Regions from separate parts of the Homo sapiens genome. Here region 1 is linked to region 2. The links come from fine-mapping of genetic effects on gene expression. Tissue or cell type: whole blood. Region 2 holds a variant in brackets; the other region holds the start of a gene. All regions are shown on one strand. Distances are between the middles of the regions.

The links. PIP is the estimated chance that this variant, and not a neighbour inherited with it, causes the effect.
Region 1: BOLA1 starts here. The variant in region 2 is fine-mapped to the expression of BOLA1 in whole blood (INTERVAL, PIP above 0.99).

Annotation. Positions count from the first base shown.
Region 1 is chr1:149,894,722-149,902,819 of GRCh38, forward strand. BOLA1 (bolA family member 1) reads left to right here and starts at 4,847. Exons shown (of 2, transcript NM_016074.5): 1 at 4,847-4,951; 2 at 5,289-6,074. The coding sequence starts at 5,339. The coding sequence ends at 5,752. LOC124904412 (a long non-coding RNA gene) reads right to left here and starts at 4,827. Exons shown (of 2, transcript XR_007066597.1): 1 at 4,757-4,827; 2 at 655-1,000. RefSeq lists an enhancer at 4,881-4,940.
Region 2 is chr1:150,019,712-150,027,814 of GRCh38, forward strand. All of the region lies in intron 1 of LOC124904413 (a long non-coding RNA gene), which reads left to right. It also overlaps a transcript of OTUD7B not described here. Among named protein-coding and RNA genes, the nearest start is that of OTUD7B, 13 kb to the left of the region's middle. The variant G/A (reference allele first, on the strand shown) is at 4,624.

The sequences.
Region 1 (8,098 bases), 120 kb before region 2:
GTCTCAAATATACTTCTCACATGCTAAAATTAGTGGGAAAAAACTTAATGAGAATTAGGAAAGTAGATACACTTAGAGTATCTTCCACAATTACAGACAGAAAAGGAATTTTATAGTGGAAAAGCCTGACAGATACCATCTTAATCAAGTGATCAGAACTATCACTAGTAATAACAAAAAGATCACGTGCCCTGGTAAGGTTCACAGAGAAGAATTCAACATTACTTCTGCAGTATTCCAGCCAAAAATGCATGTGCTAAATTTTAATCATAAAGAAACATCAGACAAACCCAGATTGAGGGACATTCTACAAAATAAATGTCTGTAACTTCAAAATTACCAAAGTCATGAAAGACAAAGAAAATCTAGGAAACTATTTCAAGTTAATGGAGAACAAAGAAATATAACAACTGAATGCAACACGTCATCCTAGATTGGATCCTGGACCAGAAGATATTTCTTTTCATTTTATATATATGATAGTAGTGGAACAATTGGCAAATTTTGAATAAGGTCTGTAGATTAGATAATAGTACCGTATCTGTGTTCATTTCTAGAGTCTGACAGTTATATTCCGGCTATGTGAGAAAATTTTTTTTTTTAAGTAAATATACATCAGTCAGGATTCTCCAGGGAAACAGAACGAATGGTAGATATTTTGATAGATAGTTTTATTATAAAAAATTGGCTTTTTGATTATGGAAGCTAATAAATCCCAAGATCCCCAAGATCTTCAGGGTAAGTTGGCAAGCTGGAGACCCAGGAGAACTGATGATATAGTTCCAGTCCAAGTTCAAAGGCCTGAGAACCAATGGTGTAGTTCCAGTCCAAAGGCCGAGTCTAAGACCCAGATGGAGCCAGTGTTTACTTCTGAGTCTGAAGGCTGAGAAAAGCCAATGTCCGGGTCTCAAAGCAGTCAGGCAGAAGGAAGTCTCTCTTACTCCGGAGTGGGTCAGTCTTTTGTTCTAGTCAAGCTTTCAACTGGTTGGATGGGACCCACCTATATTAGGGAGGGCAATTTACTCAGTCTCCAATTCAAATGTTAATCTCATTCAAAATACTCTCACAGAAGCACCCATATTTGGCCAAATATCTGAGCACCAATCCTCTAGAAGTTGGGACATTAACCATCACAGGCCGTGCGTGGTGGCTCACGCCTCTAATCCCAGCACTTTGGGAGGCTGAGGTGGGTGGATCACCTGAGGTCAGGAGTTTGAGACCAGCCTGGCCAACATGGTGAAACCCCCCTCTCCACTAAAAATACAAAAATTAGCCAGGCGCCATTGTCCACGCCTGTAATCCCAGCTACTCAGGAGGCGGAGGCACAAGAATCACTTGAACCCAGGAGACAGAGGTTGCAGTAAGCCAAGATTGCATCACTGCACTCCAGCCTGGGCGACAGAGTGAGACTCCATCTCAAAAAAAAAAAAAAAGTTAACCATCACAGGTAGAGTTTAATAGGCTTTATCTCTGAAACTTAGTCTCAAACAGTCCAGAAAATAATTATATATTTGTAGATAGGTACATACAAATAAAACAAACAGTGAATTGTTAATATTTGGGTAATCTAGGTATCAGGATAAAGGATATACAGGAATTATTTGAACTGTTTTTTTTAACTTTAGATGCACAAACCTTGTAATTATCCTTGACACTTTCCCTCCCACAACCAAGCCATTACCACACCCTGTAGGTTTTACTTTCCTAATATACATCCTGTAGCCACAATTTCTCTCCATTTCCACCACCACCACCACCACCTTGGTCCAAATCATCATCATCTCTCACCTAGACTGCTACAGTAACCTCCCAACTTGTCTCCCTGTTTCCACTCTTGCCTCCTCTACAATCCATTCTCCACCCTGAAGCCAGTGATCTTTGCAGAATACAAACTTAAAGTCAGCTAAATGCAATGCATGATCCTTGATTGGTTTCTGAAAATTAAACATTTATAATGTTTACTTAGACTGTGCTGCTATTACAAAATACCACTGACTGGGTAATTTATAAACAGAAATGTATTTTCTCACAGTTCTGGAGGCTGGGAAGTCCAAGATTACGGCACTGGCAGGTTTGGTATCTAGTGAAGGCCAGTTCCTCATAGATACGCCATCGAGGTGACCTTACATGGCAGAAGGGACAGAAGGGGCCAACTTACCCCCTCAAGCTCTTTCAAAAGGCGTTAGTCCATTCTTGAGGGTGGAGCCCTCATAGCCTTATTACCTCCTAAAGGCCCCACCACTTAATACCAACACCATGGATTAATTTTCAACATGAATTCTGGAGGAGACATATTCAAACTATAGTAGACACCAATGAGACAGTTGGGGAAATCTGAATATCAACTGTATGTGATTATAGTATTGTATGAATGTTAAATGTCTTGGATGTGGTAATGGTATTGTGGATATGTATGAAAATGTCCTTGTTCTTAGGAGATACACATTGAAAGTACATAGCAATTAAGTGTAAAGAATTTTGTGGGGCCAGGCGCAGTGGCTCACGCCTATAATCCCAGCATTTTGGGAGGCCGAGGCGGACTGATGACCTGAGTCAAGACCAGCCTGACCAACATGGAGAAACCCCGTCTCCACTAAAAACACAAAATTAGCCAGAGTGGTGGCGCACGCCTGTAATCCCAGCTACATGGGAGGCTGAGGCAAGCAAATCGCTTGAACCCAGGAGGCGGAGGTTGCTGTGAGCCAAGATCGCACCATTGCACTCCAGCCTAGGCAACAAGAGCGAAACTCCATCTCAAAAAAAAAAAAAAGAATTTTGTGGCTGGGTGCAGTGGCTCACGCCTGTAATCCCATCACTTTGGGAGGCTGAGGCAGGCAGATCACTTGAGGTCAGGAGTTCCAGAGCAGGAGGATCACTTGAGGTCAGGAGTTCCAGACCAGCCTGGCCAACATGGTGAAACCCCATCTCTACTAGAAATGCAAAAAAATTTAGCCAGGTATGGTGGCACCAGCCTGTAGTCCCAGCTACTCAGGAGGCTGAGGCAGGAGAATCACTTGAACCCAGAAGGTGGAGGTTGCAGTGGGCCAAGATGGCGCCACTGCACTCCAGTCTGGGCAACAGAGTGAGACTCTGTTTAAAAAAAAAAAAAAAAAGAATTTTGGGCCAGGCGCAGTGGCTCACGCCTGTAATCCCTGTAATCCTGGGTGGCCGAGGAGGGTGGATCACCTGAGGTTGGGAGTTCCAGACCAGCCTGATCAACATGGAGAAACCCCGTCTCTACTAAAAATACAAAATTAGCCGGGCATGTTGGCACATGCCTGTAATCCCAGCTAATCAGGAGGCTGAGGCAGGAGACTTGCTTGAACCCAGGAGGCAGAGGTTGCAGTGAGCCAAGATCACGCCATTGCACTCCAGCCTGGGCAAGAAGAGCAAAACTCCATCTCAAAAAAAAATAAATAAATAAGATTTCTGCACCTAACTCAAGTGATTCAGCAGAAATAATTATTATTATTTCATTATTATTATACACACATACATTAAAAGAGATACAAAGCCAAGTCTGGCAAAATCTTATCAGTGAACCTAGGTGAAGAGTGGATAAATGGGTTGCTCATTGTATTAATCTTGCAAATTTTCTGGAAGTTTTAATTTTTTTTAAAGGCTAGGGAAAACAGTGTATGTCATAGTTTAAATTTCTTGAGTGTGATAAGGTTATTGTGGTTATGTATGAGAATATCTTTGTTCTTAGGAGATACATATTGGAGTAGTTAGGGGTGAAATGTCATGCTATCTGCAACTTACTTTCAAATGGTTCATCCAAAAAAGCATATAAATATATTTTAAAGTATATGTAAAGTACTTAAATATATGAGTATATATGTACAAGTATAAAATAAATATAAATGCAAAAAATGGTGGGTCAAGTGAAAGGTAGAGGGTGTTGCTTTGAACTATTCAACTTTTCTGTGGCTTTGACATTTTTCAAAATGAGAAGTTGGGGAAAAACATTTAGAAATATGTAAATATATTAAGGATACAAAATAAAATTTAAATAATTTTACAAGTTAAGAATCATCCTGGAAAAATTACATCCTGTTACATCCCTGCTTAAAACCTCAGTAGCTTCCCACTACTTCTAGGATAAAGACAAAATTGCCTAACAAGGGCTACAAGGCCTGGGGTGGTCTGGCCCGTTCCTCTCCTCCTGGTACCCTACTCATCACCATCAGCTGCCCCCTAGGCTCCAACCACACATAACCACACCCTAACTACACCAGAAGGAAAGACTCCCTCAAAATTCTCTCTCCTCCTGTCCTTTACACATGCAGCTACCAAAGCCAAAACCTCACTATGAGGGACTGAGAAATGGATTCTCATGTTGTTTCTGCTGAACTGTTTCCCTAAATCTCGGAAATATTCTCTGCCCGCCTCCCATTCCACCTCTCCAACCCCGGCCAAGTCTGGGTAACTTGCCTCCTTAGCATCCTGTGTTTATCTCATCGTAGCACCTAGTACCCAGTATTGCAATTGTCCGCTCACTTGTTAGTCTTCAGTGCTCTGTTGTCTCCTTGAAAACAGGGCCTGACTTGACTCCCCAGTCCCCAGCACTAGTCTGGGGCACAGTAATTATGTATTCAATCAGACTTCCATTTTCTTGCATATAAAATAAAGGAGTTGGGCTGGATGATCTACAAGATCTATTGGCAGTAAAATAGATCTAATAATCCCAATCCCAACTGCGCGTGAATTCCCTTTTTCTTTGCATTGCTGGGTTCAGACTTTCTGACCACCTTACCAGTGGGGAGAATCCGAGACTACAGTTCCCATGAGCCCTCAGGGCACCACGTGGTGCCTGCCCGTGCTACCAACGCGCAGCGAGGACTCCATTTCCCAGCGTGCCTCAGGAAGGGCGCCAGGACTGCATTTTGCTCCGGAGCGTCCAGAGTCCTGGCCCTGAGCGGGAATCGCAGTGGCCGAGGCTGAGCGGCAGGTAGAAGGGGCGTCTCCGGGGCTTCACAGGGAACACAGGGGCTTCGGCCCAACCACAAGTACGCAGTTGCACATGCCCTACTTTTGCCCATTCTTTGCAAATCCCCTAAGGAACGAACGCGCCTCGCGTGCGGGCCTTTCTAATCTTCGCTTGTCCCTTCACTTCCACAGCTGGAGGTCGAATTCACCACGTCACGTAGAGAAAAGGGGCGGTGTCTCGGGTCTCCCCGTGTGGCATCAAGGCGGGCTCCCTATAGGAGCTGGTGTGGACGTCCGGGCGTGGGGTTAGGGCGGATGCGGGGATCGCGGGGCGGGTGTTGACATTGTGCTCTCACCAGGCGGATCGCCCCGACCCTCACTCCTGGCGTCTGAGTCTCTGGCGTAGCCCATGCTGAGTGGGCGGCTGGTCCTGGGTCTGGTCTCCATGGCTGGCCGCGTTTGTTTGTGCCAGGGCAGCGCGGGATCCGGGGCCATCGGTCCGGTGGAGGCCGCCATTCGCACGAAGTTGGAGGAGGCCCTGAGCCCCGAGGTGCTAGAGCTTCGCAACGAGAGCGGTGGCCACGCGGTCCCGCCTGGCAGTGAGACTCACTTCCGCGTGGCTGTGGTGAGCTCTCGTTTCGAGGGACTGAGCCCCCTACAACGACACCGGCTGGTCCACGCAGCGCTGGCCGAGGAGCTGGGAGGTCCGGTCCATGCGCTGGCCATCCAGGCACGGACCCCCGCCCAGTGGAGAGAGAACTCTCAGCTGGACACTAGCCCCCCATGCCTGGGTGGGAACAAGAAAACTCTAGGAACCCCCTGAACCCCAAGAGAGGGAGGACCAGGATCCGAATGGGCTGGGTGAGCACGAATTACCGAGGCCTTCCCTTTGATACAGTCCAGGATTTGTAAGGGATGAAGACCCCTGGGCCCCATTCTGTTGGGGTCCATACATACTCTCCGAAGATAGCAACTTGCTTCAGGTCAAAGTGAACCCGAGAAAAGAGAAGAATCACTCACTACTGCTCTTGCCCTGGACTATTCAGGAAGGGCAGCCCGGATGTTCCATGTTAAATCGTGACAGAATTGCACCAGACCTGATGAGTTGGAAACAATCCTATACATTAAAAGAAATTACACTATGAGGCTGTGTTCTTAATGGACTGCTGAATCAGTGCCACAGGTGTTCTTGGGAGAAGAAAGATACTTGTAGACTAGTCGGGAAGGGCTTTATGAGGGAAGTGATCTAGTTGGATCTTTAAAGGAAAGCACAAAATTAACCAGAAAGGAGAGGATAGGTGCTGCAGGCAGGGAGAAGAACCTGAGCAAAGACATAGACGCTGGACTGAGAAGTGAGTTAATGGACAAGACAGGGGATATAGGCAGGGACACATTTGAATTTCATCTTGAGGGGGGGAATGTTTGGCTTTTTTACAGCCTGTTCATTTCCAAAAAGTAGTATTTGTATTTGTTTAAAAGAAAAATGTTTTTAAAAACCACTAAAGCAGTGAAAAGAGGATAAGAACTAAGAAAATGATTACAGATGATGAAGAAACCTTTATATAGCCTTTTTTTTCTTTTCTTTTCTTTTCTTTTTTTTTTTTGAGATGGAGTTTCGCTCTTGTTGCCCAGGCTGCAGTGCAATGGCACGATCTCGGCTCACTGCCATCTCCGCCTCCTGGGTTCAAGCGATTCTTCTGCCTCAGCCTCCCCAGTAGCTGGGATTACAGGCATGCACCACCACACCCAGCTATTTTTTTGTATTTTTAGTAGAGATGGGGTTTCACCATGTTGACCAGGATGGTCTCAAACTCCTGACCTCAGGTGATCCTCCTGCCTCAGCCTCCCAAAATGCTGGGATTACAGGCGTGAGCCACTACCCGTAGCGTTTTTGTTTTTGTTTTTGTTTTTGAGATGGAGTCTCACTTTGTTGCCCAAGCTGGAGTGCAGTGTCGCGATCTCAGCTCACTGCAGCCTCCCTCCGCCTCCCAGGTTCAAGCAATTCTCCTGCCTCAGCCTCCCAAGTAGCTGGGACTAGAGGCTTGTGCCACCACACCCAGCTAATTTTTTGTATTTTATAGAGACAGGGTTTCACCATGTTGCCCAGGCTGGTCTTAGACTCCTGAGCTCAGGCACTCCGCCCACCTCAGCCTCCCAAGGTGCTAGGATTATAGGCGTAAGCCACCATGCCCCGCAATGTAGCCCTTTTTGAGCATTACAGATATTGTCATATTTCTGAGGGGAGCTCGAGTAATGTCTATAGAAGCAACTTTCCAATAATCTCAATGTGGAAATTATTAGAGAAAAAAACTTGGTTAACATATATCTTTTTTTTTTTTTTTTTTTTTTTTTTTGTGAGACGGAGTTTTGCTCTTGTTGACCAGACTGGAGTGCAATGGCCCAATCTCAGCTCACTACAACCTTCGCCTCCCAGGTTCAAGCGATTCTCCTGTCTCAGCCTCCCGAGTAGCTGGGATTACAGGTGCCTGCCACCATGCCCGGCTAATTTTTGTATTTTTAGTGGAGACGAGGTTTCATCATATTGGTCAGGCTGGTCTCAAACTCCTGACCTCAAGCAATCTGCCTGCATCGACCTCCCAAATTGCTGGGATTACATGCGTGAGCCACCACGCCCGGCCCGGTTAACATATATCTTGACCATTTCTAGCTAAAGAATTTAAGGTGCATGTGGTTGGGCAGTAGGGAGTCATTGACAAATTTTGAGTACAGACATGCCAGAGAGCATCTGGGGGCAGATGGATCTGGCAGTGATGTGTAAGTGAGTTGGCATGGGAGACTGGAGGAACAGAGATCAATCCAGAGTGAGGGTAGAACCCTGACTTACAAGTCATCTGTGGGAATGGAAAGGAAGGAGTTTATTTGAGAGCTACCATAAAATCAGAAAATGGTTTGATTGGAACAGAAATGGACTAGAGTGAGAGGGGAGTCAATGGTAACCCCAAGGCAGTGGTTTTCAGATTTTCTCAGGTAAGAACTCCCATGAGATTGTTTAAAATGAAGCTTCTGGCTGGGTGTGGTGGCTCACACCTGTAATCCCAGCAGTTTGGGAGGCCGTGGCGGGCGGATCGCCTGAGGTCAGGAGTTCGAGACCAGCTTGGGCAGCATGGTGAAACCCCATCTCTACTAAAAATACAAAAATTAGTTGGGT
Region 2 (8,103 bases):
AAATATTATTATCTTTGTTATCATTATTCACGTGGTTGGCACGATCCATCCCTAGGGGACTAAATGATTTCAGAGAGCTCATAGATTGCTCTGGGATCATTGTGTAACTGAGAAAGAAAAACTTGTTATTTAGAACCCAACCAGGCCAGGTGCAGTGGCTCACGCCTGTAATCCCAATACTTTGGGAAGCTGAAGCGGGAAGATCACTTGAGCCTAGGAGTTCAAGACCAACCTGGGCAATGTAGTGAGACACTGTCTCTACAAAATTTTTAAAATTAGCCAGGTATGTGCCTGCAGTCCTGGCTACTCAGGAGGCTGAGGAGAGAGGATCACTTGAGCCAGGGAGTTTGAGGCTGCAGTGAACTGAGATCGCATCACTACATTCCAACCTGGGTGACGGAGTGAAACCCTGTCTCAAAAACAAAACAACACAATCAACCCCAACTGTAGCTGCCTACTTTTAAGGTAGGTGATGTAATTCATATAGCAGGGAAAGAATTCTTCACACTGCCTCCTAATAGAATTGGAAGAAGGGAATGGCAGGCCAGGCGCAGTGGCTCACGCCTGTAATCCCAGCACTTTGGGAGGCTGAGGTGGGTGGATCATTTGAGGTCAGGAGTTCGAGACCAGCCTGAATAACATGGTGAAACCCTGTCTCTATTAAAAATACAAAGAATTAGCCAGGCATGGTGGCGCGCACCTGTAGTCCCAGCTATTCAGGAGACTGAAGCAGGAGAATCGCTTGAACTAGGGAGGTGGAGGTTGCAGTGAGCCAAGATCATGCCACTGCACTCCAGCCTGGGTGACAGAGCAAGACTCCATCTCAAAAAACAAACAAACAAAAAATTAAATATCTAGGTATATGCTGTATGGGCCTCTATTTGTACCCTTGCCCCAGACCCCACAAAGTTAGAGGTAGTCCTATTTAAAATTAAAACTGCTTGAGACTAGAGACTATTAACAGAGAACTACTTAAAGGAAAATATGTTTCTCTGCTATTTCTGAAAAACTTTGATTACAAACTTAGATTTTTATTTAAAGCTACTGATTTATCTTGAAAATTTTCTCTGAAAGCCAAATAGGCCCCTATCATATAATTATCTGTGTCTGAAATCACATTTCCCCCCAAAATGTTTGGTGCACCTAAATAACAACTGACACTTGTTGATTGCTTAGTTTCCAAACAGGGTGTGGATCTTTGACCCTAACTTTATCTGGCCCTGTTCTGGTCTCTGCTGGGGCAGCGCCTTCCACCTTTTCTCCTCTGGTTGGTTCAGTCTCCATCCCCTTACTTCTGTTGGCTAGACTTCTAATACGACAAAAGCAATTCATTTTTTGAGTACATAGTTTTAAATTTTTTCTGTTATTTTGAAGATTTTTTTAATAGCAAATACATTGGCCCTTTTCTATTTCTTTCTCTCAAAACACACACACCCCTAACAATTGTTTTTAAAATGAGTCAGATTTTTCCCCCTTCGGGTCATATACTTCTAGTAGGAAACATGTTCCATTTTGCTATATCAGACAGTATTTTGTTAAGGCTTTTGACGTCTGTTTTTTTCCAGTGGCGGTGAGGAAGAAGGTAGGCCAGGTCTGGGCAGGGTCCTAGAGGCTGGGAGGACTGGAGTCAGGTTTTCACACACAGCAGCTGGGAGGGAACAAAGCCAGAGGGTGAATGTAAAACTATATTTGGGGAGGTGTGGCAAAGGTTAATATTAATCTGGAAAAACGAGATCTTGTCATCTTACCAAGTTCAAGGGTCAAATTCAGAGCCAAAAATAGGAGATGAAGTCAGAGATCAGGAACTCAGTAAACCCAAGTCCAGTAGTTAAAGCAGATATGAGGTGAAAGGAACCAGTGCTACAGAGTGAAACAGGTGGAGCCCCAGAGCTCCCTGTATGGGATGAGTGAACCTGAACTAAGTCCGCATTGGATTTAATGAGAGAAGACACGACAGCACCAGCCCAGTGGAATCCAAGTTCTAGTGCTCAGTGAATACTTCTTGCATGATAAAATGGGTTTACTAATTAGTCAACAAGATTTATGAAGCATATATAAGATTCATTAAAATGTGCATATCACCAGCAAATTTAGCAGCTTTCCTAAAGAGAGGCAGAAGGGAGAAAAAAGGTGTGAATGTTAACATTTAAAATTCATTAACATTACAGATGCAGTGGTTACTCCAGACTTTCTCTTGCCACTGAAACAACATCTAATCCAGTCATTTAGAATACAGCTTCTTATTCCAACATGAAGAATAATCTAAACTCTCCCTTTCTCTCTCTCCTTAATCATTCTTCCTGCTTCCCAGCCTGAGCCTGGAACTTTTAATGGAAGTAATGGGTCAAGTCAAGACTAGTTCCACAGTCTTTAGCTGTGTCAAATACTGTAAAATCTCATGCTGGGCTGGGCATGGTGGCCCACACCAGTAATCCCAGCACTTTGGAAGGCTGAGGCAGGTGGATCACCTGAGGTCGGGAGTTCGAGACCAGCCTGGCCAACATGGTGAAACCCCGTCTCTACTAAAAATACAAAGATTAGCCAGGCGTGTTGGCGCATGCCTGTAATCCCAGTTACTCAGGAGGCTGAGGCAGGAGAATCGCTTGAAACCGGGAGGCAGAGGTTGTGGTGAGCCAAGATCGTGCCATTGCACTCCAGCCTGGGTGACAGAGCGAAACTCTCTACAAAAAAAAAAAAAAAAAAAAAAAAAAATAACTACATGCTGAAGGTCTGAGGCAGCTGATCTGGCTGAGAGAGCAACTCCAGCCGTTGGTAACTGGGATTGTTGAAAAGAGCCGTAACCACATGTGATCACATGTGCAGAGCACACACTTCACGGCTTCAGGGTGTGTTTCCCAGCCTAGCGGTAGTGCCTCACCTGGGAGCTCATTGGAAATGCAGACAGGAGACTTGTGGGCATCAAGAGACACCACAGGCCATCTAATGACATCACTATGTCTCTAAAACAGGCTTCTGCAAGCCACTACAACAAGTGGAAGTTTACCTGGGCCGATCAGTTAAGAGTCACTCTCCATTTACTTTTATTTAACTCTTTAGTATCCCACCAGATTTATCTTATATCCAATGGTATGTATTTTTAAGAACCCAAGAGAAAAAAGAAATATCTCAAAGTGCCCTATTTACTAAAGAGCCCAAGGAGTCTCTTTACCCAGCAGCAGCCACAGCAACCACAGCAACAAACAGCATTAGCATCCAGTAAGGTCATAGTGTTTGCCACCATTGTGGCAAGAGATTTATCACAATTAAATGATCACTGGCAGTGTAGAACTGGGTACTAGAAAAAACAGAAATCCCTCTCACCTGGTATATGTTCTGAAAGCAGAATTAAGAAGTATTGACTTCAGATGCACAAAGGTGAATCTTAGTCACTAGACGACCCAGAATAGCTTTTATCAAAAACATGAAAGGTAAGTGTTTCCAAGAATATGGAGAAAAGGGGACCCAGCCCACTGTTTGTGGGAATGTAAATTTGTACAACCATTTTGAAAAACAGTGTGGAGGTTCCTCAAAAAATAAATATAGAATTACCATAAAATCCAGCAATTCAACTTCTGAGTACATATCCAAAGAAATCGAAATCAGTGCATCAAAGAGATATACGCACTCCCATGTTTGTTGCAGCATTATTCACAATAGCCAAGACATAGAAGCAACCTAAATGTCCATCAGCATATAAACAGACACAGAAAATGTGGTATATATACACAGTGGAATACCAGAGAGCCTTGAAGAAGAAGGAAATCTTATTTACAACATGGATGAACCTGAAGGACATAGGCTAAGTGAAGTGAGTCAGGTACAGAAAGACAGATACCGTATAATCTCACTTATATGTGGAATCTAAAAAAGTTGAATTCATAGACACAGAGAGTAGAATGGTGGTTACCAGAGGCTGTGGTGCAGGGATAGAGAAAGCAGAGATGTTGGTCAAAGGATACAAAGTTTCAGTTACACAAAAAGAGTAAGTTTTAGAGATCTGTTGTGCAGCATGACGACCTTGGTTAATAATAAGGTTTTATATATTTCAAAATCGCTAAAAGAGTAGATTTCAAATGTTCTTGCCACACAAAAAAGGTAGGCTAGGTGATGGATATGTTAGTTAGCTTGATTTTAATCTTTCTACATGTATACATATATAAAAACATCACATTTTACCCTTATAAATATATAATCATTATTTGTCAATTTAAAAAGTTTTAAAGGTATTCCAGCTTCCTCCTGCATATGTTAATGAGTAATGACATAATTGAACAAGCACTTTAATTGGCAGCAGTACTATTACCTTCCTAATTTTGACACATCAGATAGTGGCCAGTGCTAAGGACATGAGAGACAATTATTTCTCAATAGAGTGCCACTATTTAGTTTATCAACAAAAACAATTTCTGAGCACTTATCTGCACAAGGTGGAATAAATATTCCATTCCACAAGTTAAATCTAGTTCCTCCTTAGCTTTTCTAAGAGCCTGTGATTTGTTTTAGATCACCAACTCTTAAGTCCTTTCAAATAAAGCCATTTTCATTTTTTGTTAAGAATGAGACCAGGGCATATAATAATGTCAAGGTAACAGTTTTTCTGGCAGGAGCTTGTTCCTGATTATC[G/A]CCTCTGCACTCCGGAATGAAGGATCTCACAGACTTATGAGGGGACATTAGCTTAAATAGGAAGAGAACAATAAAGAGGATCAGGGATTTGAGTACAAGGTGATAAAGCCTAGAAACAGATGGCTTGATGAAGAATGTTAAATAGGGTTAAAGATACTGATCTGCATGCTATTTTTAGTGTCCTTCTCAAAAACTGGAGAAATTAATATTTTAGGAGTTTAGCCTAAGATATACAACAAGAATTATAAATATATAAATACAGATATTGGAGAACAAATGCCTCAATAAATAGAACTAATAGCAGCTGCCATTTTAGAATGTGGTATATGTGTAGCACATGGAAAGCTAAAGAATTGATGGTTTCTCACTCAATCCTCTCAACAACGCTTTCTTTAAAAGTCTTCAGTGAAGTTTTAGAAAACACCACAATTAGCCGGGCGTGGTGGCTCACGCCTGTAATCCCAGCACTTTGGGAGGCCAAGGCGGGCGGATCTCTTGAGGTCAGGAGTTCAAGACCAGCCTGGCCAACATGGTGAAACCCCATCTCTACTAAAAATACAAAAATTAGCCAGGTGTGGTGGCACACATCTGTAGTCCCAGCTACTCGGGAGGCTGAGAGAGGAAAATCACTTGAACCCAGGAGGCAGAGGTTGCAGTGAGCTGAGATCACACCACTGCACTCCAGCCTGGGTGACAGAGTGAGACTCTGTCTCAAAAACAAAAACAAAACAAAACAAACAAAAAAACCCACCACAACCTTATCTGAACTGAGTTAGAGAAGATAAAATATAAGATAGGTCTCAGGGGCTGGGCGCGGTGCCTCATGCCTGTAATCCCAGCACTTTGGGAGACTGAGACAGGTGGATCACCTGAGGTCACGCGTTCGAGACCAGCCTAACCAACATGGAGAAACCCTGTCTCTACTAAAAATACAACTGGGCATGGTGGCACATGCCTGTAATCCCAGCTACTTGGGAGGCTGAAGCAGGAGAATCGCTTGAACCCAGGAGGCGGAGGTTGCAGTGAGCCGAGATCGTGCCATTGCACTCCAGCCTGGGCAACAAGAGCGAAACTCTGTTTCAAAAACAAGCAAACAAAACACACACACACACACACACACACACACACACACACACAAATAGACCTCAGGAAAGACTGAAACCCAGGGCTAAAATGTTTCCAGAATTCTCTGTAGCCTCTATTACAACTTCTTTCTGCATGTGAGCATTATTCTCTCCCACTACAGACTGACTTCTTCCACACCAGAGGGGAATATCAACTTCAGAGCCTCACATCTTACAGTGCTCACCACCAGAAAGGACCTAAGACTACCTTTCTCTGTGTGAATTCAAAAATCTGATGGAAAGGCTCTGATCAGACCATATTGGGTCAGGTGACCATCCTCAGACAAATACATTATGTCTAATATAGGGGATAGTGAAATATTTTGTTTGGGTCAGTTTTCTAGCCCTAGAGCAATTATTGTGGCAGGGAAATAAGCCCCCACATGAATTACACAACTGAAAAAAGAGATGTGGTCAGGTGCTCTGTTCATACTTGAGACAAAAGAGCAGAGGAGACACAGAGCTCTGATAGTCTGTTTGTCAGGTTGCAAGAAGGATCTGCAGAGCTCTGGAGCTTGAATGGCCTTGAGTGAGGGCACTTGGCGAACAGGACAAGTGACTACCAATATGAATTTTAGAAAATACAAGCATTCCTTGGAGATTCCTAGAATTTTATGGAGAAATAGGCCTTCCAGTGTTTTCCAAAGGGAGCAGGAAGGACTGAGAAAGTGCATGACCCTTCAGTTTAAGAACACTTCCTGGAAGGTGCATACAATATTTTGCTTACATCCATTGGCCAGAACTTGGATCAGAACATGATCACACTCAGCTGCAAAGGAGGCTGATATGAGCATTATTTATTCTGGGTGGCCATTTGCCAGGTTAAAATTAAAAATTCTTTTACTAAGAAAGAAGGCCAGATGGAAATTAGAAGAAAACTAGCAACATATATCATAGACCATGCAATGAATATTTATTTATTATTTTGTCTCATCATAACAGTACTTTTATTCTTTGGAGAGAATGGTTCTCTCCTTCTGCAACCATGTGATTTTGAAGGGACTTGCCTATAACAGTATCCCACTTCCCTGATGGTAGAGATAAGTTCCTAACCCAGCTTGTTTCAAGCATAATACCTCCGTCTGCCTTATCCTCAGTGATTTGTGCAAAGGTAACACATAGTCCAAATGTGACCTATGAGAGCCCTTTCCTGGGATTTTCTAACTGAATTTTTCTCGGGTTACAAGGTCATAAATATATAAGCCCAGGGCTACTTAAGGCTATAGTTGAGATACGGTGACAGCAACTTAAAAGAATAAAGCCAGTACGGAAAGAGAAAAGTGAAAAGTGAAGAGAGAGAAATGAGAAATTTCTGAATAATATCCAAGCTCTTGGTGCCAGTCATCCATAAAAATAAATCCACCCTTACCCTTTCTGCAGATTGGCCATATAAACCAATATGTCTCCGATTACTGCTTAAGCTCATTCCATCTAGGATTCTGTAATTTGCAATCAAAAGTATATTTATATTTAGAATTTATATAAATTGTAGAAATACTTAGAAATGAAATTTCTAAACAGTTAAAGCTATACTATATTCATAATCAGTGGAAGCCATTAATCATGTGATGTGTTCCTGCTAAATAGTCTCCAACTTTCAGCCTTCAGATAACGTAAATCAAAGGTATTACATTGTATTGTACTGTGTTGTGTTCTGTTGTGTTGTATTGGGCTGTATTATATCAGGTGATTCTGAACAATCACCTACCGAACCTAGCACCTGTTAACTAGGCTCTAGGGATATAAGATTATAGCACTATCTCTAACTTCAAGGTCCTCATCTTCTATAGGGAATACAGAGAGGTAATAAATAATTATAATACCATGCAGAAATATAAAAGGTAAAGCCGGGCACAGTGGCTCACACCTGTAATCCCAGCACTTTGGGAGGCTGAGGTGGGTGGATCACCTGACGTTAGGAGTTTGAGACCAGCCTGGCCAACGTGGTGACATCCCGTCTCTACTAAAACTACAAAAAATTAGCTGGGCATGGTAGTGCACACCTGTAGTCCCAGCTACTTGAGAGGCTGAGGCAGGAGAATCGGTTGAACCTAGAAGGCAGAGGCTACACTGAGCTGAGATCAGGCCGCTGCACTCCAACCTAGGCAACAGAGTGAGACTCCATCTCAAAAAATAAATAAATAAGTAAATAAGATAATCAATGGCACAAAAGCAGAAGTGATCAACTTGACATTTCTAACTTCATCTGCCAAAGAAGATTTCTTATAATAATCTGCTAGTGTCCTTTAGTGCTAAAAGGATAACTGCTAAAAAAAAAAAGTGTATTTTCTTAAAATTCCAAATTGGAAATATTTCTTTTCTTTATTATTTCCCTATGAAATAATTATATTCTATT